Linked DNA regions of Homo sapiens: regions 1, 2, 3, 4, 5 and 7 are each linked to region 6. A link means that fine-mapping ties the variant in region 6 to the plasma level of a protein whose gene starts in the linked region. Region 6 holds a variant in brackets. A gene starts in each other region. All regions are shown on their reverse strands. Region 1 holds the start of ITGA11 (integrin subunit alpha 11). Region 2 holds the start of GPNMB (glycoprotein nmb). Region 3 holds the start of EGFR (epidermal growth factor receptor). Region 4 holds the start of MDGA1 (MAM domain containing glycosylphosphatidylinositol anchor 1). Region 5 holds the start of SFRP4 (secreted frizzled related protein 4). Region 6 overlaps DCPS (decapping enzyme, scavenger). Region 7 holds the start of ASPN (asporin).

Evidence for each region. PIP is the posterior inclusion probability: the model's chance that the variant is causal. The UK Biobank Pharma Proteomics Project read protein levels with antibody pairs (Olink). The fine-mapping took linkage between variants from a reference panel, not from the people measured, so its PIPs are less certain.
Region 1: it holds the start of ITGA11, and the variant in region 6 is fine-mapped to the plasma level of the ITGA11 protein (UK Biobank, PIP above 0.99).
Region 2: it holds the start of GPNMB, and the variant in region 6 is fine-mapped to the plasma level of the GPNMB protein (UK Biobank, PIP 0.95).
Region 3: EGFR starts here. The variant in region 6 is fine-mapped to the plasma level of the EGFR protein (UK Biobank, PIP above 0.99).
Region 4: it holds the start of MDGA1, and the variant in region 6 is fine-mapped to the plasma level of the MDGA1 protein (UK Biobank, PIP 0.93).
Region 5: it holds the start of SFRP4, and the variant in region 6 is fine-mapped to the plasma level of the SFRP4 protein (UK Biobank, PIP above 0.99).
Region 7: ASPN starts here. The variant in region 6 is fine-mapped to the plasma level of the ASPN protein (UK Biobank, PIP 0.98).

The regions. Positions count from the first base shown.
Region 1 is chr15:68,430,472-68,434,711 of GRCh38, reverse strand. ITGA11 (integrin subunit alpha 11) reads left to right here and starts at 2,549. Exons shown (of 30, transcript NM_001004439.2): 1 at 2,549-2,697. The coding sequence starts at 2,646. RefSeq lists a silencer at 548-842 and an enhancer at 3,389-4,148.
Region 2 is chr7:23,244,845-23,249,084 of GRCh38, reverse strand. GPNMB (glycoprotein nmb) reads right to left here and starts at 2,310. Exons shown (of 11, transcript NM_002510.3): 1 at 2,158-2,310. The coding sequence starts at 2,227. RefSeq lists an enhancer at 739-858.
Region 3 is chr7:55,015,500-55,019,499 of GRCh38, reverse strand. EGFR (epidermal growth factor receptor) reads right to left here and starts at 483. Exons shown (of 28, transcript NM_005228.5): 1 at 135-483. The coding sequence starts at 222. It overlaps LOC105375284 (a long non-coding RNA gene), which reads left to right and starts at 578. Exons shown (of 4, transcript XR_007060329.1): 1 at 578-2,939.
Region 4 is chr6:37,695,505-37,699,706 of GRCh38, reverse strand. It overlaps MDGA1 (MAM domain containing glycosylphosphatidylinositol anchor 1), which reads left to right and starts at 1,824. Exons shown (of 17, transcript NM_153487.4): 1 at 1,824-2,962. The coding sequence starts at 2,896. RefSeq lists silencers at 713-782, 803-872, 1,739-1,868, 1,889-1,958, 2,019-2,148 and 3 more and enhancers at 2,471-3,200, 3,201-3,930.
Region 5 is chr7:37,914,906-37,919,145 of GRCh38, reverse strand. SFRP4 (secreted frizzled related protein 4) reads left to right here and starts at 2,329. Exons shown (of 6, transcript NM_003014.4): 1 at 2,329-3,053. The coding sequence starts at 2,609.
Region 6 is chr11:126,347,275-126,351,514 of GRCh38, reverse strand. DCPS (decapping enzyme, scavenger) reads right to left here. Exons shown (of 6, transcript NM_014026.6): 6 at 1,510-4,240. The region is part of intron 1 of GSEC (G-quadruplex forming sequence containing lncRNA); the gene reads left to right. Among named protein-coding and RNA genes, the nearest start is that of GSEC, 6.2 kb to the left of the region's middle. The variant A/G (reference allele first, on the strand shown) is at 2,014.
Region 7 is chr9:92,480,566-92,484,565 of GRCh38, reverse strand. ASPN (asporin) reads left to right here and starts at 2,060. Exons shown (of 8, transcript NM_017680.6): 1 at 2,060-2,273. The region is part of intron 5 of CENPP (centromere protein P); the gene reads right to left.

The DNA of each region.
Region 1 (4,240 bases), not on the chromosome of region 6:
AATATACTAACAACTACTGGATTCTATGGCACAGTTTATGGCATGTGAATAAATAAATCAGTTAAAACACTGTGTACATGTAAAGAGTTATTATTATTATTCAACAGAAATCACAGCTTTCATAAAGCCCTTCACCAAATTCTCTGCAGTTCTCCAGCCTTAGAGTCTGGATTGTGCACTTGTCACTCATATGCTGCTGCCTTGGGTGTGATTTAAATAATGTTTAATAGTGATGAAATAATAAATGGTTTTAAATAGATTAATAAATAACAGATTATGATTAAATAAATACATGGTTATGTCTTGTCTCCTCAGCTCCATCACCAGCTGCCCTAGTGTGGGGTTCTCCTTCCGTGTGTCCTACAGAGCACAGGGGCACAGTAGGCACTCTGTAGGATCTGTTGAAAGAACAAATGAGGGCACACCTCTCCCCTCACCCTCCCACATTACACAAAAGCACACAGAGTGATCCTCAGGACCCCCATTCCCCAGGCACCTGTGAGGACGGTGAAGGTGAATGAATGGTAGAATTGTTACCAGCGAGACCAGCAGCAGCGCAGCTAGGACAGCCACTACAGTGCGCCCCTTCAGCAAGCAGCATGCAGACTCTGAGCACAAGCTGCAGACCACCCACACGTCAGAGGTGCCTGGGGCACCCACCAGCATGCCCTGATCCTTGGGGAATTTGCATTCTTTGCACGTGCTCCAGGTCGTTCTGATGCACCTGGAGATTTGTGCAAGGCAGGAATGTGGGCTGCAGCCCATTCCCTAGCTGTAGGGGTGTTCTACATTCAACTCAGCTGGCTTAAACTCAACTCAGTGAAGAGGACTCACTGTCGTATAACTGATAAGTCCCAAGGGGAGTGGGGTTAAGGGGTGGCTTCATTCAGGAGTTCAACAAGATCCTCCATTCTGTCATCCAGTGTCCACCTCATCTCAAGGCCAGATCCTCCTTCCCTACCCTGACCCTGTCAACTTCTGAGCCTACAAAGTTCCTTGTCCCAGGCTGGGAGAGGAGGCAGGAGTGGGAGAGGTGAGGAGAGAGAGTTAGTTCATTTGTTTGTTTGTTCTAGGGGCTCTTTTAGAAAGGCAAGAAAGCTTGCTTCCCAAAAAAACTTTTTCTTTTGTCATATTGCCCTTTCTGAAACGATGGGCTGGGAAGGGCAACATACTGATTCATTTCAGCCTGAACCGCATGCCTCCTTACACACACACACACACACACACACACACCAGGGACGGAATCACCTTCCCCGAGTCTGTGGCTGAATGGGTGAGGTGAAGATGAAGTAAAACCCAGATAGCCAACCGAAAGATAGTGAGGTTGGGAGACGAGCACAAGCCCACTTCACTTATGTGAACCTGGGTCTTCTCAAACTCCAGCTCATCTTCAGGGGCCCTGACTGAACATCACCTCCTCTGGGAAGCCCTTCCAATACCTCCCAGATAGAAAACTCTATCCTTTGTGCACCCACACACCACCTGTACTCACCCATCCATCCACCCGCCCACCTACTTTGTTCCTGGGTGTTAGGGGCTGAGTACTCCATTGTGAACCAGAGATTTCTACCCTGATGGTGTTTTCAGTCTGCACAGGAGAGAAAAGTTAAATGATCACACCAATTGATGCCTTGCTTCTCTACTAAGCACAATGAAGAGAAATGAGGGAGAGCGGGCTGGGGAATATCAGCATGTGTCTGGGACTCAACCTGGTGGGGACGGGAAGAGGGGGTGAAGGAAGCCTTTCCTGAGAAAGTGGGGGAAGGGCGCTCTGCTGTGGCTTTCCCTGCATCTTGGCCTTCCTACCCTCTGCCTCGGCTTCCTCCATTGCTGGAAAAGCCTCCACAAGCGCGGTGGAGGTCCGGGGCCTGGATTTAAAGCTCTTGAGATAAATGTGCATTGAATTTAACTACCAGTGATTAGAAGAGGGAAAGAAGGTGGCAGGGTTACAAAGAAGAGCTTCACGTTAGGTTAAGAGGGGGTGCACGGTGTCCCTGGGTGCTTTGGAATGCCTCAGGTGTGGAGGCTCAGGGAGTGGCAGTGGAGGCGAATCTGCATGTATTCCAGGGTCAGAAGAAACACTAGCCTCTACAATTCAAGCCGCAGGGTGCAGGGAGACACGGGGATGTCTTAGAATGGACCTTTGAGGGACATCCACTCACTTGGCCAAGGGAGACCTGCGTTCCAGCAGGTGTTCCTGAGCCAGCTTGGGTACCCTCTGAGTTTTGTGAATCTCTTTTCACTGGGAAATGGGAATAAAAACCACTTTTCCTGAACAGAATCTGACTGAGGCGGTGCGGTGCTACACTGGTGAGGGGGTTCCCAGGAGCGGTTCTCTGGAGTTTTCTCCAGAGGCTGACGTGGGGTTGGCGGAGAAGGAGCGCTGCACAGGCGCGTCGAGGCAGCGCGCCGCCTGCCCAGGTGGCAGAGCGGCCGAGACTGGCCCAGAGCCCGAGCCGGAGTGGTGTCCGGCGCCCCTCCCCTCCGCTCGAGCCCTCCCACTTCCTCTGAATGAGCCGCAGCTGTCAGGGAGCCCGGCGCCCCGCGCAGTGCAGGCTGCAGGCGCCGCGCCGAGGAGGCTGCCGCTCTGGCTTGCCGCCCCCCGCCGCCGCTGCACACCGGACCCAGCCGCCGTGCCGCGGGCCATGGACCTGCCCAGGGGCCTGGTGGTGGCCTGGGCGCTCAGCCTGTGGCCAGGTAGGTGCCCACCCTCTGCCTCCCCTTGCCTCTCGGAGTCCCTCCCTGGGCCCTCGGGGCTTGGATCCAGCGGCCAGGATCGGGACGCGACCCTCCTCCCAGGGTCAGACCTCAGCTGCTCTTGGGGACGTGGGTCCCCCAGGGACTGGCCCCAGTCTAGCGGTTCAGTCAAGTTTCGCTAAAGAGGGAGGTGCGAAGGCTATTGAAAGCCGGGACTCTTTGGTGTGTTTGGGAAGAGTTGAAGAGGCTTGAGTTGAAAAGCTCCCAGATCTGGTGGCCCTCCTGGGCGCCTTAGGTGCCTCCAAGGCCCATGCCGGGGTTCCCGCACGGCTGCCAGGGGCACTCGGGTGTCCCGGGAGCGCCGAGGGCGCACGGCCCCGGCTGGGGAAGGGAATCAGCGCCAAGAGAGTGTGCCCTGGCTGCCCTCCTGCCTGGCTCCGGGGAAGCATCTCAAAGTTTGGAGAGCCGGGCGCGGCGGCCCCGGAGGGCTGAAGGGTGGGGGTGAGGGCTGCGCAGAGTGCCTCCGGCCAAAGACAGAGCAAAGCCCCGGGGCGATGGCCGGTAGGCGGGGGCTAGCTCTCGTCTGCCCGGCCAGCAGCGGCGGGACACAGTCGCGCAGCGCAGGACCCCCGAAACGTTACCTGACACCCGGGGTAGGGACCCGGCATTGCCTCCCAACCCGCGCTCGGAATTATGCAATTATTCAATAATCTGGGGAAAGCCGCCGTCGCCTAGACGCGCGCCGCCGCCTAATGCACTCCAGGTGTCGGGGCGCGGCAGGAACCTCCGGCCCGAGGGGCGCGCGGCTGGGAGCGGGAAGCCAGCCCTGAGCTCTCCGCCCTAGGGTACCCTGGCCCCGGCCGTCCCACACCGGGCTCCCCGGCTCCACCCTCCACGCGGGGCGGCTGCCAGTGATGCTGTTCTGCGGAAGACGGCCAAGTGCTCCGGCAAGGGCCAGCGCCTCGGTTACTGGCCGGGTGTGGGCGCTCAACCTTGCCTCCCCTTCTGCGTGGGCTCCAGGCCCGAGCTGGGGCCAGTAGTGGGGGTCAGATGCGGTGGTAGTGGGAGAGGTGCCCTCAGGGAGCTCAGGTGGAGACCCCTATCCCGCAGCCGCTTGCCCCAGTCCCCGGGTACCACGCGAAGCAAGTCCACCCTCCTGTCGGCCTACAGAGGAGCTTCTCAGAGGGCCCATGGTTGAAAGGGCCTCTGGCTAGTGGAATCCTAGAGTCACAGTTTAAAACAATCATTGATACATTGAGTTGTGGGGGCTTGGAAGGGAGAGCAGGGGAAGAACTGCCACCAGGCCAATATGCAACTAGAAGCCAGCTGCGGGAGGAGGCCAAGCCCATTTAGGTGTGTTTAGACAGGAGGGGAGAATCTTCTCCAGGAACTGTCCTCATATCACTAGGAGATCCAGCCACAAGAAAAGAGACGCACTCCTGTGTGACTCCAGATAGGTGGCTGCATCAGAACCTTGGGAAGGAGTGGCTGCCTTAGGGGCTAGGGACAGCCTGGACCTCAGGAAGCTAAGAGCAATGGCTTT
Region 2 (4,240 bases), not on the chromosome of region 6:
ATAAACCCATCCGGATAAGGTGGCTCATGCCTGTAGTCCTAGCATTCTGGGAGGCCAAGGGAGGACTGAGCCCAGAAGTTTGAGGCCAGCCTGGGCAATGTAGTAAGATCCCATTTCTACAAAAAATACAAAAATTATCTGGGTGTGGTGGCACGTGCCTGTGGTCCCAGCTACTCAGGAGGCTGAGGTGGAAGATCACCTTTAGCCCAGGAGTTGGAGGCTGCAGTGAGCTGTGATCACACCACTGCACTCCAGCCTGGGTGAGAGTAAGACCCTGTCTCTAAAAAAATTGATTAAAAAAAAAAAAACCCAATAGTAAGCAGATTTTAAAAGAAAAATAAAAGCCTGTGGGGGTGGGTTTTGGGGGCAATCAATGTGAAGGTAAATTTGAGGTCGCACCCAGTGCTGCAGCCGACTCTGCCTCCACACTTTGGCATCCTTGCTGTGTCCACCAGCAGAGAGGTGGTGGCTGGGCTGCCTCCACCTACCTTGTCCACACTTTCTCCTTCCTTCAGGGCTACGAATGGAAAATGGTAGGAAATCTTTAGTGCTTGATACACTGCTACATTCTGCCTGCCCTTATTTTTTTCTGGGCAGAATATTTAGTCCAGAGCAAGGTGAACCTGGTGAATGGCTGGGTTTTGTTACACTGCCCAAGAGGCTGAGGACTCCTCTCGAGCTGACAGCGCTGATTCGGCCTCCTGCTAATCTGTTTTATTGAGCAGAGCGAAGTGGACTGGTGAAAGAGGGTGGAATAATAGCAGGTGTCCCCCATCGGGTCTATTCTGTGTTCCTTCGTCTTTAAAGTAGCCTGTCCTGGGAGGTATCCTGAGGGTGGGTGCAGGTCTGCCTCCGTAGGAACAATCCCCACCATGCACGTCTCTCACGCCAAGCAGCTGATCTCACAAGAACACAATTACCCAGTTTTGCAAATGAGGAAACGAAAACTCCTCGTTTTGAAGGAAATGAGGAAATGGAGCAAAGCCACTGGAGACCCAGCCCCTAGGCTGGCGGGGAGCCCGAGCCTGTCCAACCCCAAACCCGGGCAGGAAGGACAGAGGTCGGGATGGAAGGCTGCCTCCTCAACTTACCCGCTGTGTGGCTTGGGGCGAGTTCCTTGCCCACTCTGTGGCCCGTGGCCTCGTGTGGGAAGCGGGACCATCACAGTGCCGGGCTCCGCGGGCTGCTAGGAGGACGCGCGGCGCACTGCGGGCCGGGAACGTGCTGCGCGCTGACACCGGGTCAGCTCCCTGTGATGGGACTTCCTTTCCAAAAACGTAGGCGTTTTCCCGGGTCGCAGTCGCAGTCGGGAGACTGAGGGTTAGGGCGCGGCCGCGGGGTCTCCTGGGCCGGGGCGCGGCCCACGTCTCAGGCCTCTGCGGCTCTGACCAGAAGCCGCTGCGCCTTTGGCCGCTTCCCACCCGTCCCGTCCCCGCAATCCCAGGCCCAGGGTTACAGCGGCTCAGCTCTCTTCCTCTCGCGAATCTGCACACTGCTTCAGTGGTCTGGACCCTGGCTGCATAGGCAGATCCCAAGAGGAACTTTTAAAACAAGGATCCTCTGACCCCACTCCCAAAGATTCCGGTTTCATTGCGTGGGTATCAGTATTGTTAAAAATGCCCTGGCCTCTCCTGCCTGACCAGGGTAGAGAGCCTGGGCTTCAGCTCCTCTCCCAGCAAGCTCCTGCAGGTCTGTGAGGAAGCCCCGCAGGAGGAGCAATAGCTTCAGGGCTGGGGAGATTCGTAAATTTGCCTCCAGATTGGAGACCCCATTTCATGTGAGGTCTCCACCCTTTTGGATGGAAGCTGGACATAGTTTAGTTGGTGGAGTTGCTTTGTTCTGTGGCCGGAGGCTGTCCAACCCTCCCCCAACCACTGTCTGGCAAGAATGGGTTGCAATTGCAATGGAAAAGAAGCTTCACAAGAGAAGGGCAGCATAGTTTTTACTTTCCATGAGCCGAAAGCAAAGAATGGAGCTGGAGGCATTTTGCTGTAGTTTCAGCCTTCCCAACAGTTTGCAGAAGAAGAGATGAGTGAGCCAGAGATGAAAGCTTCCTGAAGAACTTCAGTCCAACCTCTAGTTCAGAGGATATTATTAGCCATCATTTCAGCCAATGGCCAGAGAATGGGTTAAACATAGAAATTAAGGGTTACTCACGTTTGGCGGCATCAAGTGGCAATCTTGCAGCCAGGAGCAGAAATCCCAGGAAATAGTAGAGACATTCCATGCTGAATTCTCACGGACGCAGGCACTCAAGGTTTAACTCTGAATTCCTCTGGGCCCGTCCACCAAGAGCAACAGTGTTCTTCTGGCATCTGTGGTGCCTCCCTCTCTATTTTAATTAAATACAGGGCCTCGGGGAGGATCATGTGATGGTATTAAGCGGCACTGCCTGATCTGGTCTCTCAAGTTCAACCTCTTACAACTCATGTGCTTATGACTCACTCCTTCTTGGCATCTATTTATTCACTTTTCAGATGCACATTATTTCAATTTTGTGATTCCACATTTACTAGATTCAAGGAGTTTTTTTCCTATAGACTCTATTTCAATATTCATTTTTTTTTTTTGAGATGGAGTCTCACACTGTCTCCCAGGCTGGAGTGCAATGGCACGATCTCAGCTCACTGCAACTTCCACCTCCCAGGTTCAAGCCATTCTCCTGCCTCAGCCTCCTGAGTAGCTGGAATTACAGGTGCCCGCCACCATGCCCGGCTAATTTTTTGTATTTTTAGTAGAGGCAGGTTTCACTATGTTGGCCAGGCTGGTCTCGATCTCCTGACCTTGTGATCTGCCCGCCTCGGCTTCCCAAAGTGCTGGGATTACAGGCATGAGCCACCGCGCCTGGCTCAATATTCTTTACCAAATAAAATTTCAATCCTCCAGCCTCACTGATTATCGACTTACTGTGGTTCCTATACTGCATCAGGCACCCAGCTCACGTTTAGAGTTCACAGTTACGCACCCTTTCCTAAGATGTAGTTGTCCACCTGCTCCTGTGCTCGTGATTGCTTGTATATTTTTTTCCTCCAAGAGGAAGCAAAGATGGGGGAGGTGTCTTATCAATCATTTGAAATTGTGGAATACATAAGTGGATGATAACATGAATGTTGTGCCAGGATGTGCTGGAAACAGCTGCCCAGGCCTCTGGTAGCTGAGAAATTTACTCAAAAGCACATTTAGAATATCTGTGCAATTCCATATAACTTTTGTAATAACCTGCATAATTTTTGGTAACTGCTCTCAAAGCATTTATGTGTTGCATTACTCAGAGCCAATTGCATAAAACGTTCTGTGTATTTTTTCATATTATAGAAAGCAGGCATTAAATGTACAAACAAGTGTGTCTGTAAGATAAATTTATACAGTCAAATCATTCCTGGTTACAGAGTATGCAGAAAATGTGGCAACATGAAAACTTTACCATATGTGACCTTTCTCAAACTCACATTCACATGGCCATTTTCAGTGCAGTAGAAACCTTGGTTGCAGGTGAGGGTAAAACTTGGGGTATTGATTTATGGTTCAGTGTGTCAAGGAGGAATGGAAATAGCCTATGAAACTAAAATCCATACAGCAGGAGTGGCTGACTTCCATCCCTAAGGCGGCAAACAACTCTGTAGAGTGCCTTTTACAGCCTTTGCAGCAAATATGAAGGGGAAAACAACGAAAGGAACACATTATTCATGACTGAAACAATTTTCAAATATTGATGAATAAAGGAATAATGGAAATACTTATTAGTTTCATGTAATGTAAAGCGAATAATGTATATAGTTATTTGCTTTTTAAATTACTTAAAAACTTTTTTTTTTTTTTTTTTTAGAGACAGGCTCTCACTCTGTTGCCCAGGCCGGAGTGCAGTGGCATGATTATAGCTCATTGCAGCCTTGAACTCCTAGGCTCAAGTGATCCTCCCACCTCAGCCTTCCAAGTAGGTAGGACTACAGGCACACACCACCACACTCGGCTAATTTTTTATTTGCTTTTTATTTTTTGTAGAGACAAAAATCTCACTATGCTGCCCAGGCTGGTCTTGAACTCCTGGCCTCAAGTGATCTTCCCACCTCAGCTGCCTACAGCACTATTTGCTTTTTATGACAAACACATAACTTTTACAATTAAAAAAAAACACCTTTTCAATTTAAGGAAAAGCTACTATTAACATTTTTAAAGATATTTTTGTCCTTTGTTGCAGACACAGTTCTGGCTCATATTTCTAGCCAGATTAGCCACCCCG
Region 3 (4,000 bases), not on the chromosome of region 6:
TGATCTCAAGGAAACAGGAAAGGACGGGCGGGGGCGCGGGCGCCGAGCCGGTGCGCCGGTGCGCGGTTGGGCGGGCTGCGGGGTCCGGGGCGCGATCCGGGGGCGGCGCGGGAGCCGGCGAGACACGCCCTTACCTTTCTTTTCCTCCAGAGCCCGACTCGCCGGGCAGAGCGCAGCCAGCAGCGCCAGGAGCGCTGCCCCGGCCGTCCCGGAGGGTCGCATCGCTGCTCCCCGAAGAGCTCGCTCCGGCTCTCCCGATCAATACTGGACGGAGTCAGGGGGCCGTGCGCGGTGGTTGTGGCGTTGGCGGCGAGGCGGGGACTCGGGCGGACGCCGACGAGGTGGCCTGTCGTCCGGTCTGGGCGGCGGCGGCCGCCGGGGCTAGCTCGGGACTCCGGCCGCCTCGGCCGCGTCGGGCGCTCACACCGTGCGGGGGGCGGAGGCTGCTGCGGCCGCGCTGCGCCGGGGGCTGCCCGGACGTCTAGCTCGCGCGGGCCGAGGCGCGGGGAGGCAGGGCGGGAGGAGGAGGGACCAGGCGGCGGAGGAGGGATCGGGAGGAGCAGAGGAGGAGGAGAATGCGAGGAGGAGGGAGGAGAACCAGCAGCGGGGACCCAAGGCCAGCGGCCGCCGGAGGCGGTGGACAGCGGTGGCCCCCGCGGGACCTAGTCTCCGGCGGGAGTGGGGCGGCGCATGGGAGGGGAGCGGGTGCCCTGAGGAGTTAATTTCCGAGAGGGGCGTTCCCAGCACTGCCCCTCTGGACCCGGTCCCCGCGGACTTGCAGGCCCAGCCTATGTCCAGGTCGAGCCAAATCTGTGCCAGGGTCCCCTTCCCCCTTTCCCTTCTTTTGTTTTACAAAGCAAACTTGTACCAGCTTTAGACAGACTGGCCGAGCCTTAGAGCCAGCGTCGGATAATGGCACCGACGGGGAAACTGCTCCTTTATTCGGGTCCCCACCTCCCCTGCAGCACTACGGGACCCTCTCGGGGATCAGAGGCTGGCCTGGCAGCTGAGGAGGTCGCCGTGCCCGCGCGGCAGGGGTGCCAGGCGTCCGAGGTGGTGCTCTAAAGTCCGAGGGTCCTTCAGATCTTGTCAAGCACCCTCGAAATCATCTGAAATGAGGGCACCCAACTCCGGGTGCAGAGACAGGCCTCCTTAATGTTTATTGCAACCAGCCATGGGTACTTTGAAGCCAATGTGTGAAGCACATTACTTCGCAAAAGTGAAGCTCTTGGAATAAAGGCTTGACACAAACAGCCGTGGAGGTGCTTTTAGAGAGGCTAAGTGTCCCACTGCCCCTGTAGCTCCCGCAGGAGAAATGCCAGGGAAACTCGCGGAAGCTTTGGCCAAAAGAAACTGAGCTTTTTTGGGCTGCAGGAACTTGAGCTATATTCCTTTGGCAAGTCCACCCCATCCCCACTGTTCCTTCTCCTGCAGTAAAAATGTCCTCTAGGTCCATGTTACAGCCAGACCCCTCCTCTCTTCACGAGATTCACTAGGACCTTCAGGCCTGGTTCAACAACCCTGATCTCTCGGCTCTGTCAAAAATCACAATCCTGAAGTAAGTGAAGCTACAGACCTGCCCTTTGCTGTCTCTGAAGGGGAGCAACCTTACATCTTTCCTCCTCATCCAGCAAAATGTTTGTGCCTGGGTCTCGCACCCTGCAGCCTGAACGGTGGGGTTTTTCACCAGGGCAAGCGCAGACAGACACAGGTCTGCTCACTGCCCGCACAACCTGGAACTTCCCTGTGAATTAGGAGAAGTAATCTGTTCCTTTGTTTTAACAAATCAGTACAGCCACTGTGCGTTGAAGTCATGCCCTGAATGCAGAGGCCATGAAGGCTCTGCAGGCATGTGTGTGCTTCCTGCACACCTGGGCTGAGAGCAGTCCGTAGAAACACAGAAAACAAAACTAGAGAAAGGCAAATGGGAAGCACAACAGTGGAACATAAAATGAAGACAGGAGTGAGTCTTACAATAAAAGACCTGAATACAATAAAGTCCTGTGCATTCACTTAACAAGGGCTGCAAATTTGGTTTTAAACTATATTTTCTGTCAAGGGAATGTGACCTGTGTGTACAAGTCACAACACAAATCAATTTAAGCTACAACTGATTTGTAAGACTGTACAGGAATTTCTTTGAGTGCCCAAAAAGACAGCATGTAAGAACATCAGTTCTCACTACGTTAGGACTATATGAGACAACAGCCTTCATAGTACGGCTTGTATATTCTTCAATGTGATCTGATAGCATCACAAGAAACAGAGCTTTTTGTAAAGAATTACTAGACACACACATAGCACAATACTGGGATGGATTCCAGGGAACAGAGAAGAATGGGTTTGCTGAACATCTTCATGGGACATCTATGTAAAGTTTGAGTTTCTCCTTTGAGCTTTTGATACAAAAGCTGACATTCACGTTGATTTTGTAGTCCTTGGCTAGTACCTGGAGTGTGCTGATAACTGTGTTACTTGGTAAGTAAAAAACTGTATGGCCGAGCAGGCACTAATGAAGTCCTCTTAAGAGAGATAAGTAGCCTGGCATAGTTAGGGCCCTGCACAGTTAGGGCTCTAGCTCACAGCCTCTGTGGAGGGTGGTCCTAGACCATGGCCCGGACAGAGGCTGGGTGTGTGTGCCACCACCACAGGAATGACAATAGTGGCCCAGTTGCTGTGTTAAGCATTGGTCAGACTAAGCTTATCTGATAACCTGTGAGCTGGTTAATACTTGTATCTGCCTTTTATAGCAATGTGATGCTGTGGCCGGGAGAAGTGACCAGGATACCAAGGTATACTTGCTAGTATGAGAGGCCAACTTTGAATCCAAGGCAGAGCCGTGTTTTACCCCTCTTGTCCAGCAACGCTTCAAAACCTGAGACAAATGGTGATGTCAGGACCTAAAATTCTATTTCATAATGTCTTGGAAATTTGTTAGGGTGAGTAATACCAAAATTTCTGCTTGGCCAAAAAAATTATAGATAAAGCCTTCATGTATGCTATATTAGCAAGTATGTACTAAGACTCTAGTATTTCCCTTAATAAATCTCATAAGCGTCTGTCAATTTTAATAACACAGATGGTTCCATCCCTTTGCCAGCTGTACATGAGAAACTTTTTTCCTCTGATGAGTGGTTATCCTCTTAGAAGAAGTTTCTGAGTATGTTGAATAAGAGTTTAGTCTTGTCTATAAGGAATGTGGCTCTGAATTTCCTAAAACCAAATGCTCTGTGAAAGGGGAGGAGAAACACGTTATTTGGCAGGGTGAAGATCTGAGGTCTTCAAATATTCTAAGTTCCATCTTAGGCAAAAGGCATTTGACCACCTGTTTTCTCTGGCTTAGAGGTCAAAGTAAAGATTGATTAGGAAAAAAAAACATAGTGGCAGATTTTAGACTTTCAAAAATATGTTTTATAAGTTATTGGAGCTAAGTAAAAGTAGAATAAGCTATGTCAGAGTGGAAAGGGCTTTTTTGAGAAAGATTTTTGTGCAAGAACAATAAGTACTAATGGAGGTTGTGAATTAAGGACTGACACAGGTTCCTTCCAACCCTAAAGTTCCTTAAGAAAATGCACTTCTAAAATAGGTTTTCACTTAAACATGTGTTCACTTGACAGCTCTTCTAAGGATATATGTTAAGGAGATACAAGAATCTGGTAACAGCTTTGCCTCTAGGGAGGAGAACTAGGTAGCTCGGGGTCAGGGGTTTAGAGGGAGACTTGTTTTTCAATTTGTCCTTCTGTACCATTGGGATTTTGTACCAGGAGCATGCCTCACCTATTTCTGCAAGGTAAGTGTGGCCCCTGCTGAGGTTCAGGGACACTCCTGGGGGCAGGCTTTCATGGTTTCTGAGACTGTTTATTCCTTCTCCTTGAAGGAAGTCATTTGCCTTGAGCTCTGAGTTGAGACCCATCTCTTGCAGAATGTGGAAGAAGCAGCTTTTTCAAGGGGTAATGTGCTGACAGAAAACTGCTGAAGCATTTCTCCTTTGTCATTAGTA
Region 4 (4,202 bases), not on the chromosome of region 6:
AGGGAGGCGCAAACGAGTGGAGGTGGGCTAGAGAATAGGAATCTTCGGATGTTCTCGGGCTTCCTGAGATGGACAGAAAGGGGGCTGAGAAAGGAAGGTGGAACCCCCCCATGCCACCAGGCACTTCCCGACACCTCCCGCTCCTCTTCCAGCAGTCAGGAGCGCGCGCTCCGGTGGGGCTTAAGCCCTGGAGAGTCAAGGGAGGAGAGACCCAGCAGGAAATGGGCCTGGGGAAGGGACGGTTCATTATTATTATTTTAAAAAAATTTATGTTTCAATTTATATGCAGACTAACCTTTTTGGAGTGTGGAGATCTTTGAGTTTTGACAAATGCATAGAGCCGTGGAACCACCATCAAGATATTGAGCAGTTCCAGGGGGCGAAGGGAGGGGGGGTTCGTAGTCTCCCCGCTTGTTAGCTGCTGCGATTGTCTGCGCTCCCACGGGCCGACCTAAAACAATTCTTGCGCACACGCTGAGATAAATAACGGCGACAGGTGGAGCAGGTGAGATTAGCAGGACCCGGGTTGGGCGCGGGGCGGGATCGGAGGCGCGGGGGAGGCCACCAGCCTCGCTTGCCAGCCTACGCCCCTCCCCGCGGGCGTTTGGGAGGAGCGTTCTCCGCACTCCTGCTCCGCGAGGGCCCCTTCGAGGCGGCTGAGACCCGAGTGCCGGACTCCCGCCGCTGGAGCGGGGCTCGGGTTCGGCAGCCGGAAGGAGGTGTGCCCCCGGGGCGCTTGGGGGCGCCTGAGGTCCCGAGGGGAGGCAAGATGGGAAGAGTGGCTAGCCGAGGAAAATGTGGGGTGACTTAGGGAAGCTCTGGCGGAGGGGTCGTGCGAGCAAACCTGTTGGCAACCTGTGGGCCGCGGCAAGGGCAGGAGCTCTCAGCGCGACCTCTCCGCCAGCTGCTCCGGCCCGGCCCCAGCACCAGACGCCTGGAAAGGGGCGGGGGCCTCTCGAGCCGGGCAGACAGCCTTGCAGACCCACAGCCGCGGCCCGTCTCGCGCGGCTGCAGGACCCCAGGAACCGCAGGCGCCCGGCCTTTCCCTAGGACCCCCGCTTCAGTCCCGCCTCCCCAAAGTGCAAAACATTTACGAAGTGTGCAGTGCCCTGCGGGCATGGGTCTCCGAAGCGAGCGGCCGTGTTTGCCCCGCGGGCTGCTGGCAACGGTGCACCCGGCTCGGCCAGCTAGTCTGGGTGTGCAAGGCTGGAGAACAGCGAGTGTGCGAGCGCGCGGCTGCAGAGCCCCCGCCGAAACCCAGGTCCCTCCGCCACTGTCCTCGGGATAGATGGATCCATTTCTGCTTTCTGACATTTTCCTGCTGGGCGGGGTTGGGGGGGAATGTTAGGGGGCGGAGAGAGGAAGAGAGAGAGAGGGAGAGGAGAAAGGGAAAGAGAGGAGAGGAGAGGAAGGGAGAGAGAGCGAGAGGGAGAGAGAGAGGAGAGAGAGAAGAGAGAGAGAGGAGAGAGAGAGAAAGAGAGAGAGAGAGAGAGAGAGAGAGAGAGAGAGAGAGAGAGAGAGAGAGAAAGAGAAAGAGAAAGAGAAAGAGAAAGGCAGGCAGTCAGCTTCCCCCAGCCCTGTTTTGTTTTCTCTAATTGGTCCTGGGGGAGGCGAGGAAATTGGACAGAGGCTGGGCCAGGCGAGCTGGGCTGCCTTTAATTGGCTCCTTTTTTTAACTGGAGGGGAATCAAACAGGAGAGCGAGCGACAACGGGTGGGAGAGCGAGAGACCGAACGAGGAGACGCGAGGAGGAGGGAGGAGGAAGAGAGGGAGGGAGGCGGGAGGAGCGCGGAATGAAAAGCTCGGAGGGGCGAAAAAGCAGCACAGCAAAGCCCAAGTTGCTGAGCGAGCGGAGCGCTCCCGCGGCCCGGAGCCGAGCGGCCGCCGCGCCCCGGAGCCCGGCCCGGCCCCGCCCGCTCTGGGCCCCCGCAGGCCAAGGCCGCCGGGCGGGGGCGGGGACGACCAACTTGGGGCGCGGCGTAGCCCCGCTCTCCCGAGAGCTCGGAGCCCGGGAGGGCTACGGCCGCGGCCAGACGGCGGGAGAGGAGCGCGGCGAGCGGAGGCGGCGAGCGGCGCCCGCGCCGCAGCCCCGGCCTGGGCGAGAGCGCGAATATTTTTCAAAAGACTCAAACTTTCCTCCTTTCCCCGTTTTCTGGGGCCCTTCTTGCCTGGAATTGCTCTCCAGATTCCCGCGGGGCGCCGGGCTGCTATTCTTCCCCCGGGTTTATCGGCGGCTCGGCTAACTTCACGGACCCGGGGACCCGCGGCGCTCGTCCCTCGGCCGAACCCAGCCCGCGCTGCTCCCCGGATCAGGAGGGCCGGGCCCGGGGCTGCTTCGCCGCCGCGAGTGCTTTCAGCCCGGCCCCCTGGAGTCGGGCCGCTGAGCCCACGGCAGCGGCCGCAGGACTGGAAACAGCAGATTGATTAACTCGAGCGGAGCCCCGGCCTCCCCGACTCCGCTCCGCTGAGGGGCGGCCCCAGTGCGGGGAAACGACAAGTTTGTCAGTCGTCCGTGGCCTGTTGGATCGAAGCGCCGCCTCCGCCGCCGAGAGGTCCCCGGCGCCTAGCATCCCGCGCGGACGGCCCTGGGTACCCGGGGCGGCTCGGCGGCCGGGCTCCTCGGGTCGGGGCGCTGGCTGCTGTGCCGGGCGCGCCGAGGCACCCGGGGCTGGGCCAGCGCCCCCTGCGTCCCCACGCGGGCAGCGGCCCCGCCGGAGGAGAAACACGGGTCGCCGCCACCTCCGCCTCTTCAGTCTCCTGGTCTTCGTCGCCGCTCTCTCTCTCACCTCTCAGGGAAAGGGGGGGACATAGGGGCGTCGCGGGGCCCCGGCGAATGCGCCCCCCGCCGCCTCTCGGGCTGCGCCGCCTCGCGGGGATGAAGCACCGGCCGTGAAGATGGAGGTGACCTGCCTTCTACTTCTGGCGCTGATCCCCTTCCACTGCCGGGGACAAGGAGTCTACGGTAAGAGCCCGCGTCCCGCTCCACCTTGGCTTAACCTCGCGCGGAAACTTTGCAAGAGGCGCAAAGTGCGCGCTGCCGGGGTTTGGTGGAGACCTCGACTCGGACTCTGGAGTGGATGCCCGCGTCCCCGCCCTCTCCAGGGCGCGTGGAGACCGAGCTAGCTGCTTCGGAACACAGGGGCCGGTCGTAGGGTCTGGTGGGAAGCCGGGATGTCAGGAGGAGGCACCCACTTTCCCACACCCTGCTAGAGGTGGGAATGATTAGGAACCCTTGAGAGCACCCGGTCGGCTCGGGAGACCCGGACAGACCCAGTCTAGGACTGGTGCAGCGACTTGCACCGAAACCTCGTCCTGGCTCGGCCTCCGGAGTGGAAGCCAAGCGATGCATGAGCCGGAGTTGCCGCGCGGCTTGCGGGCGAGCCGGCTGTCAGCACCAAGGCCGGGCGGCGGGCTCGCCTTCCCCGCTGTTGCTGCGGCTTCGCTTCTTCTACTCAGGGCTTGACACCCTGATCAGGATGCCGGCATCCCCTGGCCCTGGCGCCTTCGACCCCGGCATCCCTTTTCGGACCTTCCCTGAACCAGTTCTTCCTGTCCCCGGTTCTTGGCTACAAACCCCAACCCCACCTTCCTTCCTGCGCGCACACACAGATACATTCAGCCACCATCCCCAGAAAACGCAAACACGGCACGCACCCACCGGGATACGTGTCCAAACTCTGCCTCCTGCCACGCAGCCTTGCTCCTGCGTCCGCACGCCTCGCTGTGGTTACCAAGGGAGACTCTGGTTACCCCTTCCCCCTTCCATCCTGTGGGTTTTCCCAGGGAAGGCCCGGGGCAGGCATCATCCATTCAGTCACCTGGGCTCAGCCTCCCGCAGTGCCTTAACCCCACAGCACAAAAAATCATTCTCAGGGGCCCAGTGGCCCTTACTTTGCTTTCTCTTTACTGCAGGATGGTTTGTCCAGGTCCCTTTTTAGTGATGTGTGGCTGGGGCGGGCAGGATTCTCTCTTTCCTTTTCTGTTGGGTGGAGGGACTAATGATTCCTCTTTTAGATCCAGGGGAGGTTGACCTGTTCTTTGTGGGGTAGTATAGGCACTGACTACTGGTTGCCAGCCTCAGGTGCTGAGGCTAAAGCACCCTGGAGGGTGCTGACCCATCTGCCTGTGCCTGGCAAGAAGAAGGGGTGTCCTGAAGGGTGTCTGAGAGGTGACATGCTCCTGGCCCTGCCCAGCTAGCTGGC
Region 5 (4,240 bases), not on the chromosome of region 6:
TGACATTTTGTGGGTAGAGGCCAAGGATGCTACTAAACTTCCTACAATGTGCAGTACAGCCACCTCCCCTCTCCCAAATGAAGAGAAAATTATCTGGCCCCAAATGTCCTAAGTGTTGGGGGTGAGAAAACCTGGAGTTCAGGGGAGTGTTGAGTGTGAGAAGAAGGATTAGGATGGAGCCCCAGAGAGCTCCAGACATTTAAAGGATGGGCAAAGAACAGGCACTTGAGGAGACCAAAAGGAGTCACCAGAGAGAAGCCACTGAATGAGGCAACTTCCCGAGCCTTGTTAAATAAATGTAAGGCATGGAAAGAATGGACTGAATGCTGAAGTAGGGTGTTCTAGAATCACAGCCTCCCTGGAAGTCCCGAAGAGGAGGGACAGTTGACAGGTTTTCCTGATGCATCCTTCTCTGCTGCCCCCTGTCTGTCGAACCACCAGAGACACTACCAATGGGCCGAATGGGGCAGGCACAAAGCTTTAGGAAGAAGGGCTCTTCATTTCCTCTTACCTTTTCTTAAAGGGCATGCCTCAGAGAACATCAGGGAAGCCCATAAGACTTTGTGACTTGGTACTTACATAGTTAAACAGATGCAGCAGGTTCAAACTGGCTGCAGAAATTTGAGCCCTCTCCGAGTTTGCCCTGCTCAGATTCATAGGAAAAGTGTAGGGTAGTTCAGCTCTTTCTCTTGCTCCCCAGGTAGGAACTCCAGCTGAAAATCTTTTTCACCCAGTGAAGGGTTTAGACTCATTGGAGTTTACTGCTAGAAATGGCTTGAGATGTCATCTGGGCTTTCCTCCTCATGTGATATTTTACTAGCCTGGCTTGGCATCTTTGGAGGTGGAGACTGGTTCTATAGGAACTAGATTACCTTTCTAGAGTGGCTTGGCAGTGTAAGAACACCCTGGGCTTCCCCTAAATAAGAACCAGACTCTTTGGATGAATCCTGAAATGTATTTGTCTCATTTATCCTTTTCACTTACTATGTTTAATTCATGTTCCCTAAAAAATAAGATAATGCATTTAAAGTTCTTAGCTTCATACCTTGACCATTGTAAATTCCCAATAGATGTCACTTGTGCTTGTTGTTTCCTCAGCTGTTTTAATCCTTAGTCTTTAGTTTTAATCCTCAGTCAAAACTAAACTAATTGTGTAGGTTTAAGCTTTGGAGAGAAAAACCATGTGCCTTAAATTCAAGTTAAACTATGTTTTTAAAGATTAACATTCAGAGAACATGTTTCCATATTGCTGATGCCCTAATAAATAGCATATACCAGAAGTCTTACCACCTGAAGATTGATATACATCAATCTCATATAAATAAATCCTCCCTTTTCTGTAGATAGCTGAGCCAGCAATTGGACTACCTTTTCCTAATGCAAGTAAGATAAAAGAGAAAGCAAAACATACATACTTGCATCCCATAGTACACAGCTTCTTACTCAACTCAAGCAACAGTCTCTGAGCACATCAAAAATCAAGATTTTAGGCTGCTGAGGTGGAAATCCTTTGGCATGAAGGATCAGAGCAGGGGAGACCTTTCAGATTGTGGTGCCCAATGTTTTCTCCTGGGTTCCACTAATGCTGCAGAGGGGAACAGGGAGTTAGAAGGAAGAGGAAATGTTAGAAGACATTTCTGAAGCTGGAAGATGCTAGCACACCTTCCCCCAGTTCTGTTAACTTCCTGGAGCAGAAACAAACCAAGTGTTATACTGGAAAAATTTCGGCCCAAACTGTCTACTAGCAACAACAACAACAAACCACACTCCACACAACTAAGGGCGGAGTGGGAGTGATTTATACAACGTGACCCTCCTGTTCTGACATTCACTGCACTCTCGCCTGCCTTGCAGGACATTGTCCCAACTGTCCTCAGCGCTCCTCATGCCCCCTACCGGAGAAAGCAAATATATTTCAGAATTAGAGGGCAGCAGAAGCTCCTATTTTCCCCCAACTCTATACTTGGAAAAACTCTAAGGCAGAGGGAGCAAAGTTCAGTTTTCAGCCAAAGAGTGTCTTTCTCTCTCTTGAAATTCTCTCCCGCACCCTCTTGTATCCGGTGTCGAAAACAACTGCCAGAGGTTCTTTTTCTTGGTCCGAAGAAAAAAGACTGGCCAGACTAAAAAGGAGGGACTTTAGGGGGAAAGCAGGCTTCCAGCCCTGGGCTGCGGCCCAGAGGGGGTGATGTCACCGCTTCTGCACCGACGGGCCTGGGGGTGGGGCGGCCGAGGGGGAGCCCGCGCCGCGGCTGCAGCTGCCAAGGGAGCGTTCCGAGCCCACGTCAGGGGAGGTGTCGGGATAAATAGGGTCCCGCAATGGCCGTGGCTGGCTGCGCTCCGAGCTGCGGAGTCCGGGACTGGAGCTGCCCGGGCGGGTTCGCGCCCCGAAGGCTGAGAGCTGGCGCTGCTCGTGCCCTGTGTGCCAGACGGCGGAGCTCCGCGGCCGGACCCCGCGGCCCCGCTTTGCTGCCGACTGGAGTTTGGGGGAAGAAACTCTCCTGCGCCCCAGAGGATTTCTTCCTCGGCGAAGGGACAGCGAAAGATGAGGGTGGCAGGAAGAGAAGGGCGCTTTCTGTCTGCCGGGGTCGCAGCGCGAGAGGGCAGTGCCATGTTCCTCTCCATCCTAGTGGCGCTGTGCCTGTGGCTGCACCTGGCGCTGGGCGTGCGCGGCGCGCCCTGCGAGGCGGTGCGCATCCCTATGTGCCGGCACATGCCCTGGAACATCACGCGGATGCCCAACCACCTGCACCACAGCACGCAGGAGAACGCCATCCTGGCCATCGAGCAGTACGAGGAGCTGGTGGACGTGAACTGCAGCGCCGTGCTGCGCTTCTTCCTCTGTGCCATGTACGCGCCCATTTGCACCCTGGAGTTCCTGCACGACCCTATCAAGCCGTGCAAGTCGGTGTGCCAACGCGCGCGCGACGACTGCGAGCCCCTCATGAAGATGTACAACCACAGCTGGCCCGAAAGCCTGGCCTGCGACGAGCTGCCTGTCTATGACCGTGGCGTGTGCATCTCGCCTGAAGCCATCGTCACGGACCTCCCGGAGGGTGAGGCCGTAGGAAGGATGGAGGGAGGCGAGGAGGCGCCCGGGGCTGTGGCTGCCAATCGAGAACTGGGCGGCCACACCTAAGGCTGCCAGGGGCGTCTGAGGCTTGTAGGAGGTGGGAAAGAATGGGGGAAACATTTTCTTCAGAAAAAGTCTGGTTTCTCCCATAGGAATTTTAGGAGCTAGCGGAGAGCACTGCACCCCATAAAGAAAAAAAAAAAGATTTTGCTTACAAAGGGAGCCTTCGATGATGTTTGCATTTATAGTAATAACAGAAATGATAATAGCAGTAAACAGGTGTTGCTAGGTGTCTGAGCAAGTGTTAAACACATTACACGTTATTGACTCATTTAATGCCCAAAATAATCTCACCAAGCAGGTGCCAATACTCGTTCCATTTAGCGCTACTTCTTAAAAAGTTTTTTTTTTTCTGAAAAAGCAGTAACGGTCATTGCTTCCCACCAGGAGTGAGATTTGTAATTGCAGTTTCCCTGGAAAATTGTGAGGTCTGTTTCATAGTCATTGGCCCGGAGCCAACTACAGTGGCATTTTAGTTAACCCCATCTCTGCTTCCACTTCCTTCTTTTTTCTTTGGTCATTTGACTGCTTTTCTAAAAAGAAGGAGAGGTTTAAATTCACTTCTTGAAATGAAACCTAGGAATATTTTTGCATTCTTTTATCCAGGCTTTATCTGGCCCAGGTTACCCCACATTTAAACAGACTATGATATTGCTGTGCTGGAATCTCTGAAGTTATACCCCAGAGCATTGCTCTAAACATGAAGGAGGAGTGGTTAAGTGAACAGGGTAAATGGAAACTCCTCTCTAATTTAGAGTTTTAGGAAAGAAAACATATTTATTGTTTAAATTATATAAATAATAGAGGGTTATGCTTGGTTTTGGTTATATACCTGTGAACTGTTTCTGCACTGCAAGATATGAGGTAGGGATTTGGAAATATTTTGGTTATTTTGATTAACATAAACTGTTAACTTGGAAAATCAACATTTAAATATGACTTTGGGAGAGAGTGATGTGATTTATCCAGTTTGGTTGTATATACCAGTGAGGTTAAATGGATATACATTCACATCGATTTGTGCTTGGATAGGCAAATATTCCCCCAGAGGATTTCTTTCCTAAGCCCTGGATATCATTATGAAAGGAGAAGTCAACAATCACATGCCGT
Region 6 (4,240 bases):
GGTTCATACAAGGTCATCTTCTCACTGTAACCTCACAGTGAGAGGAAGGGCCTAGGGGTGACTCTGGGATCTCTTTTATGAGGCACTAATCCCATTAATGGGGGCCCCCCACCCTCATGGCCTAATCACCTCCCAAAGGCCCCACGATTGCCTTGGGTGTTAGGATTTCCACATATGAATTTTAGGGGAACACAGACGTTCAGGCCATAGCAAATATCTTGCCCAAATATCTCTAGTTCCATCCTTTTGGTCACTCTCAGACCAGAACATTTACTGAGTGATTACTATGTCCCACAAAATTCTTATTTAACCCTCAGAAAAACCGTCTGGGGGAAGCATTGTTATCACTCCTATTTCATGAGCAGTTATGTAACTTGCCCCAGATAAGACTTGGTTATGGCACAGATTCTGTGTTGGAGCCTTCAGACCACTCTACTTCCCAAGCAGGGGAGGAACAGAACATTAAAGATTTTCTTGGCCTTGGCTTTCATTTCTTCATCGTGGTTCTGAAAGGAAAATTGGCTACAGTCTTAAATGTATGTGTGGGCCCACGCTAGAAGCTCAGCTCTCAGTGCCAGCCACACTGAGCCCTGGTCTCCCTAACTTCCGGGCCTTTACTCTGCTTGTCATTGGGCTGATAACCAAGATCCAGCCTAGAGCACAAGAAGACAAACGCTGCGTGATCTCGTGTGTAGAACCTAACAAAGTGGAACTCACAGAAGCAGAGAGTAGAATGGTGGTTGCCTGTTGGAATGGGGAGATGGTCAGAGAATGCAAACTTTCAGTTGGATGGGAGGAAGAAGTTCCAGAGATCTATTGTGCCACATGGTGACAATAGTTAATAACAATGTACTGGGCGGGGGGTGGTGGCCTACGCCTGTAATCCCAGCACTTTGGGAAGCTGAGGCAGACAGATCACTTGAGGTCAGGAGTTCTAGACCAGCTTGTCCAACATGGTGAAACCCCGTCTCTACTATAAAACTACAAAATTAGCCAGGTGTGGTGGTGTGCGCCTGTAATCTCAGCTACTTGGGAGGCTGAATCGCTTGAACCCAGGAGGTGGAGGTTGCAGTGAGTCGAGACTGCGCCACTGCCCTCCAGCCTGGGTGACACAGTGAGACTCTGTTTCAAAAAAACAAAAAAAGCAATGTACTGTATACTTGAAAATTGCTCACAGAGATTTTAAATGTTCTCACCATTACAAAATGATAAATATGTGACATAATGCATATGTTAATTAGCCCGATTTAGTGATTCCACAGTGTATACATATAACAAAACATGTTGTACACCATAAATGTATACTATTTTTATTTGCCAATTAAATATATTTTTTTAAAGTTTTAGCCTGCAGGTTTAGCTTTTTGGGGCTGAAGCCCCATAGCCCCCTCCACTTCAACACACTCATCAGCATTGTAATTACTTTGTAATTAATGCCTGTGTTCCTACTAAATTGTAAGCTCCACATGAGCTCTGCCTCCAGGTGCTTGCAAAAAAACCAAAAGGGGGTGGGGGTAGATGCTCAAAGCCTGTTTATTAAATTGTATTGAAATTGAAACGCTTGAAACAGATTTCATTCCTGCTTATTTTCTAACAGTGGTTAAAACTTGGTAACTTCAAGTTGACATGGATTTCAGAATTCAATGTAATTTCAATAATATTATAATAGAACAAACTTAGGGTTGCCAACATTTATTTTGCTAAGCAAGGCTATTTTAAAAACAACTATCAATAATTATCTTATTTTAAAAAATACATTTTAACCTTATATATACATGTTTGGAATAAAAACAGTCCTTCCTGAGAAGGAAGAGTTGGCAGACCTACATCAATAAAATAAATATATTCAAATGCTTTGGATATGGAAGTATTACAAGAGAAACATTTTCAAGTATTACTTCGTATGTAGTTGTTTCTTATTTCTCAGTTCGGGGATCTGTATTCAACAGGGACATGGAATATGGAGCCTGAGATGGTATTTTTCTGTTTCATGTTGGTAAATAGAGACCACTC[A/G]GCAATTTTGCTCTATTAGGAAAGTTTGAGACAAATGGAGAGAAGCCAAGGAACAATAGCAGTCATGCCTCCAACTGCTTCTTTCCTTCTCCAACCAAGCCAGAAAGAATGTAGGCCAAGTGTTGAGGGCTAAAAGCCAGTCGTGGAGCCGTCCAGGATTTATCTAGGAAGGGTGACATCTGCCACTGCTCCAGCAGAGCGGGGGCATGGCATGCTTCTGAGGGCACACAGTTCAACACATGAGGCACTCTGCAGCACACAGGACCAAGGTGTCATGCTGCCAGAGGGGCTGGCATTTGCCATTTTGTCAAGGCAGGGCTGCAGCTTGTGGCTTGCTCAGGACAGAAGGATGTTGGGCTCTTACGAGATAGCAGGAAGAAAGCATGAGGTAGAGGGGCTGGTCCTTACTCTCCATCCCCTGCGTGAGATCCAGGAGGCCTCATTCAGAGCCTAGCTCTGGTCCTCCATTCGCCACATGTTTTTTGAGCACTTATAGGTGAGTCACCACCCTAGGTTCTGGGGAAATGGTGAACAAAGGGCCAGAAGTCTCTGCTTCCTGGAGCTGACGTTCACTCCATAATGCTGGACAAGACATCCTGAGCCCATTTCTTCGTAAAAAGGAAGGAGAATGTGGGTCATGAAATGATCTGCTATATGAATGTAGTGTTATAATGTTGCTTTGTCTCAAAGGTTGGTTTGCTGAGCCAGGTAGTGTCTTAGGGGCCAGGGATAGAGAGATAACTAAAACAAAGCTCCTACCCTCAAGACCCTCTCAGTCTAGTGAGGAAAGCGGAGAAACTCACAAATAGGAATAAAAGGAGGCACTATATTGCAAAGCTATCATCTTGAGTTACCTGGGAGTCTGATATGAAGGTCACCCTAATAAAGACAGACTATGCTTTTGGAGTCTCAACAGGACTTGGCAGAGCAGCCAACCCTGGTGCACTCTAGACCTTGAGGGTGATAAGCCCAAAGAGGGTTGGATTGAGGGAGGGAGCTGCATGGGGGCCGTGGCCGGCAGGGTCCCTGGAGATTACAGCAGCAGAGCACTGGCTGGCTCTGAAGGGGAACCCTTGCCAGGCCTCTAGCAGAGGCTTGTCTTTCCATGTACAAGAAAAGTTAAGTGGTGAGGCCTGGAGAGGGGCCCCCTTCTGTACTGTGGTGAAGATAAACGAGGCTGGGAGAGGAGTGAGGGGACGCTATCCCAGAGAGGCTCCTCCCCACAGAGTGGGCAGAAGGAAGACAGAACTGGCCAGCCCCTCGGGGGAGTCGAGAAACCTTCCAGAGTGTGGGTCCCTGTCTCCATGCCCTGCCTCTCCAGACCTGAGTGCCTGCCCTCTGCTGTGACTGCCAGCCTCGTCTGTCCTGTTGGGTGAACTCTGTCCCATCTCTCTTGCCCCTCAAACATTTATTTATCCGGTGTCAAATTCCTACCCACCTTCCTCCAGGGGCCAGGCGCTACGAGATGAGGGGAAGGAACGGCAAGGTCAGCGGGAGCCCGTGGAGTCAGACCCTCCAGCAGCACCACTGGGGGCTGGGCAGGAGGGCATGGGCTGAGGCCACAGGGAAGGGCTGCTCCACAGGGAGGCCTCCCTCTGCTCCGTGGCAGTTGTGGTGCTGGAGATGGAGACCGTGTTTGCTTGTTGGGACCACATCTGCTTTCAGAGGGGAAGCGGGTCACTTCTTTCCCCTGGACCTGGAATGGGCACAACTGAGACGCAGGGAGCATTCCTGCAAGCTGGACACTGCTCTGGGAGAAGACCTCCATCCAACCTCCTGCCAAGACCCCAGCAGCTGCCAGTGTCACTGCCCACAAAAGTATTTGCTTAGCCCAAGAAGGAGTCAGTCAGATGTGTGGTGGCCATGAAATGGATCCTGCTGATTCTCTGTCAGACCTCCCTGCATTGGTCACTACCTCAAAGTTCCTTGGCTGCAACTCCATGTTGCCTGAATCTAGGGACTGTTGACGTATTGCAGGGGCTGGGCGCGGTGGCTCACGCCTGGAATCCCAGCACTTTGGGAGGCCGAGATGGGTGGATCACCTGAGGCCAGGAGTTGGAGACCAGCCTGGCCAACATGGTGAAACCCCGTCTCTACTAAAAATACAAAAATTAGCTGGGCATGGGGGCGCACCCCTGTAGTCCCAGCTACTCAGGAGGCTGAGGCAGGAGAATCACTTGAACCCAGGAGGCAGAGGTTGCAGTGAGTCGAGATTGTGCCACTGCAC
Region 7 (4,000 bases), not on the chromosome of region 6:
CCCCAAATGACAGACTGAGGAACGTTCATAGTACCTCTCCAAAAGGTAATTAATCTAGTTGAATATATAAACAATTTGTGGCTTATTCATGTATGAGAATACTATACAGTGACAAGAATGAACTACTGTGTATCACAATGACACGAATGGATCTCAAAAGCATGTCACTGAATGAAAAAAGCCAGATGCAAAAGAGAATGCACAGTATGATTCCATTTATATAAAGTTCAGGAAATAACCTATGGTGCTGAACTCAGGCTGTGACTTGAGGAGTAAGAGGAGGGATTCTGGATGTATGAGAATGGAGTGTGAGGCTGGGATTTCTTGATTGGGGTCATTTTGTAAAAATTAATTGAGTTGTACCATTATGATATGTTTTTTTTTGGTAACATACACTTCAATAAACAGTTCAGAAACAAAACATTGTGCAGGACAAACTGAATTTGACCCAAGGGCTTCCTGTTTATGACTGTGTTCTGAAGGAATTTAGGCAAACACTAGATGCTCTGGATACAAAGATTTTAAAAATCCAGTTCATATTTTCATTATGTTCCCAATTCATCCAGTTAACAGATACATTTGCAACTGAAATATACTTGAATAAATGAGAATATGAGCATTCTAAACCAAACAGGAGGGCCGTCATTCCCTAAGGTGCTGCAGGGCTAGGATGGGGCCTGAGTTACAGAGGGCCACTAATGGGACTACCGAGCTGCCTGGAACTGTCAGCCTAGAGGTCCAAGGAGGAGTACTTTATTTAAGTGAGGGGAGGATGAACACATAGCCAGCTGCTATGCACATCTGAGGCACATGTATTCTTTAGGACTGTAGCTGCCTTGCTTAACACAATGTGTGCCATTTCTCTGGAGAGAGGGAACAAACGATGGTCAGACTCTTGATGACAGTAGAGAACAGGTCTTCTAACCCACTGGAAAAGCTCTTTGCTGGCCTCCAAATCTATACAACAGTTGGGAAGAACCATTGGGGTCACTTACAACAGTAAGTCCTTGCCACTAGGGTTAGAAAACTGTCCTCTCAGGCCGGCCATGGTGGCTCATGCCTGTAATCCCAGCACTTTGGGAGGCCGAGGCGGGCAGATCACGAGGTCAGGAGATCGAGACCATCCTGGCTAACACAATGAAACACTGTCTCTATTAAAAAACCAAAAAATTAGCCAGGCGTGGTGGCGGGCGCCTGCAGTCCCAGCTACTCGGGAGGCTGAGGCAGGAGAATGGCGTGAACCTGGGAGGCAGAGCTTGCAGTAAGCCAAGATTGCGCCACCGCACTCCAGCCTGGGTGACAGAGTGAGACTCCGTCTCAAAAAAAAAAAAAAGAAAACTGTCCTCTCTTGAAGGTCTTAGTTGATGTAGAATTGGGCAGTCTCTTGGGGATGAGTGGAAAGGGGGTACAAATAATGATTTATTTTCAGGAAATAGCATCTTCCCTGCTCTAAGTCTCCCTAAATGTCAGTGAGGCCATAGCTAATATTCTCTTGAAAAGGGAAAGTTGTATGCATCCTAAGAGGGTGTTACTTGGACATGCATGTGTGTCTGTGTTATATCACATATGTTGAGTCCAGGGAGCAGTTCATGGAGCCTCATCCATAGTTTCCCTGACATGCTATAGCAGTGCTAAAAGCTTAAAAAAAAAAAAAAGTCTGGAGAAGTATGCATAATGCAATAGCTACAGTCATTAGAAGAAAAAAAAAGTATGGTTCTTTCTCAGGTACATCTGAAGTTTGGGTATATACTTCAGTAATGTTGGTATCCTTTATTCAGATTGATAAATATTTTATTAGTCTATACAGGTTGAGTAATTTTTGAAATTGTAATTTACAAATATTCATTCACTTAAGAATCTAATATTTTTAAAACTAGGTATTTCTTGAATGACTCCGACTGCACTTTCAATGGCCAGTTGCCATGCATTATTAAACTTTCTTTTTTTTTCTTCTTCAGAATCTTCCAGTAGACGTCTAGAGTTTAGCTAGAAGTCTTGGCTACGATACAAACAGTGATGGAAAACACATGAGCAGTAACAAGTTTTAATCTTGCTCCTCAGTACTAACATGGACTAATCTGTGGGAGCAGTTTATTCCAGTATCACCCAGGGTGCAGCCACACCAGGACTGTGTTGAAGGGTGTTTTTTTTCTTTTAAATGTAATACCTCCTCATCTTTTCTTCTTACACAGTGTCTGAGAACATTTACATTATAGATAAGTAGTACATGGTGGATAACTTCTACTTTTAGGAGGACTACTCTCTTCTGACAGGTATGTTTCATGTCTATCTTACAAGTATCGATGTATACTTTACAGTCAATACTAAGGAGACATTAATGTTATTAATAAATGCTTATAAATAATAGGATAAAGTCCAAAGTTTATCTCTATAATTTCTTAAAAATCAGCATTTAAATACAAACCTAAATTTGTACCTAAAATTATTCTAGTTTTATGTCTTACCTATAATGAATGTATTTTAAATATAATTATGTGACTTTTTTTTTCAGCTAAGTGAAAACCTGTCATTATGCCTTACCATAAATGTTAACATGATTGATTTTAAAAGTCATCTAAATAAACATCTTGTATGTTTATCTAGGAAAATAACATTGCTATAATAATGATCATGAAGTTTGGGGATATCACAGCTATATTAAATGAAACAGTAAATATATTTTTCAATATTTAAAATATTTTCTAATGTGTATTTAAAATGTGTGAATTACTGAAATGTCAATTTTACTTATACATTTGAATATTCATTTTTTTCCTTGATAAATGTCTTCCTTATTATAATGAAATGGCACTGAAAAGTTCAAATGGAAATCTATTCAATTCCAAGAAAGAATACTTATCAGCAATAGTTTAGCTAGCACTATATTCAATATGAAAGATTAGGAAATTTTCACAGCATGTATACAGTCAGAATTTAACACTTTCAAAGATTTCCTTTGTCTACTCCCAAAGTAAATTTCTGATTAAATTTTAGATTAAAAAATTTAAGCAATGTATTCAATATTCTACTCCCTAGTAATCTAAATAGCGCACAGCATTCTTTCATGTTAATCTATTCAGAGGTGTGGCACCCAGGAAACAGTGGCCACATGGTGTAGGGACTGAGTCATAAAGAACCTGAGGGGGTTGTATTTCCCTAAAAATAAAGTTGTTTAAATCCAAGAATCAAGCTGTTAAAAGAAAGAAATGAAAAAAGAAAGAAAAATCGAGCACAAGCCCACACACATAAAAGGATCCTGATGTTTTTAGTTTGTTTTTTGGCATTAAGGAGTATAGTGTAGTAGTGGAAAGAACAGAGGATATATAGTCTTCTGTTACAACTAACTACTCAATTAAAAACAAATATTCTGATAACTGATCTGAGGTTTGAGACAAAAACAATTAACTTTACAAGCACAAGTCTTGAGGCACTGTGGGAAACATCATAAAAATGGAGAGGCAGTAGATTTTGTTTTTTAAGACAGTAGCTTGATTGCTAGACATGTGGAGAAATTAATGAAGGGCAAAATTAGTATAAAAGGAAGAACAGCTAGAATGCTTTGTCAGAATGCTAGTTATACTTCTAAGGTAAAATTAACTACTTTTTAAGGAAAGTGCTATCTTTATCAGTATCCATGAACAAATGGTACTGTGAATAAGTTTCCAAATGCATGTTGGACTTTTAACTCATTTGTTAGCTTACAAGACTATGCCTTGATTACATCTGAATTTGGTTTGGATTCCTTCGGTGAAATATATGGAGTATGTTATATCACATTTATATGCTGAAATCTGCTACTGGTACCTGTGAACTGATAGGCATGTTTAAACCCAGGGGAAAAGTTGCCAAGCGGGCCTTTAAACATGGGATTTAAAAGCACAGTGACTTATTTACCTAATAATAGTGTCTGAGAGGAAATACCATTTCACTTAGATAAACTTTCTAAGTTTGTAGACCAGTTAAATGGAAACAAGAAAGCTTATGTGCTTCTTAAGCTTTA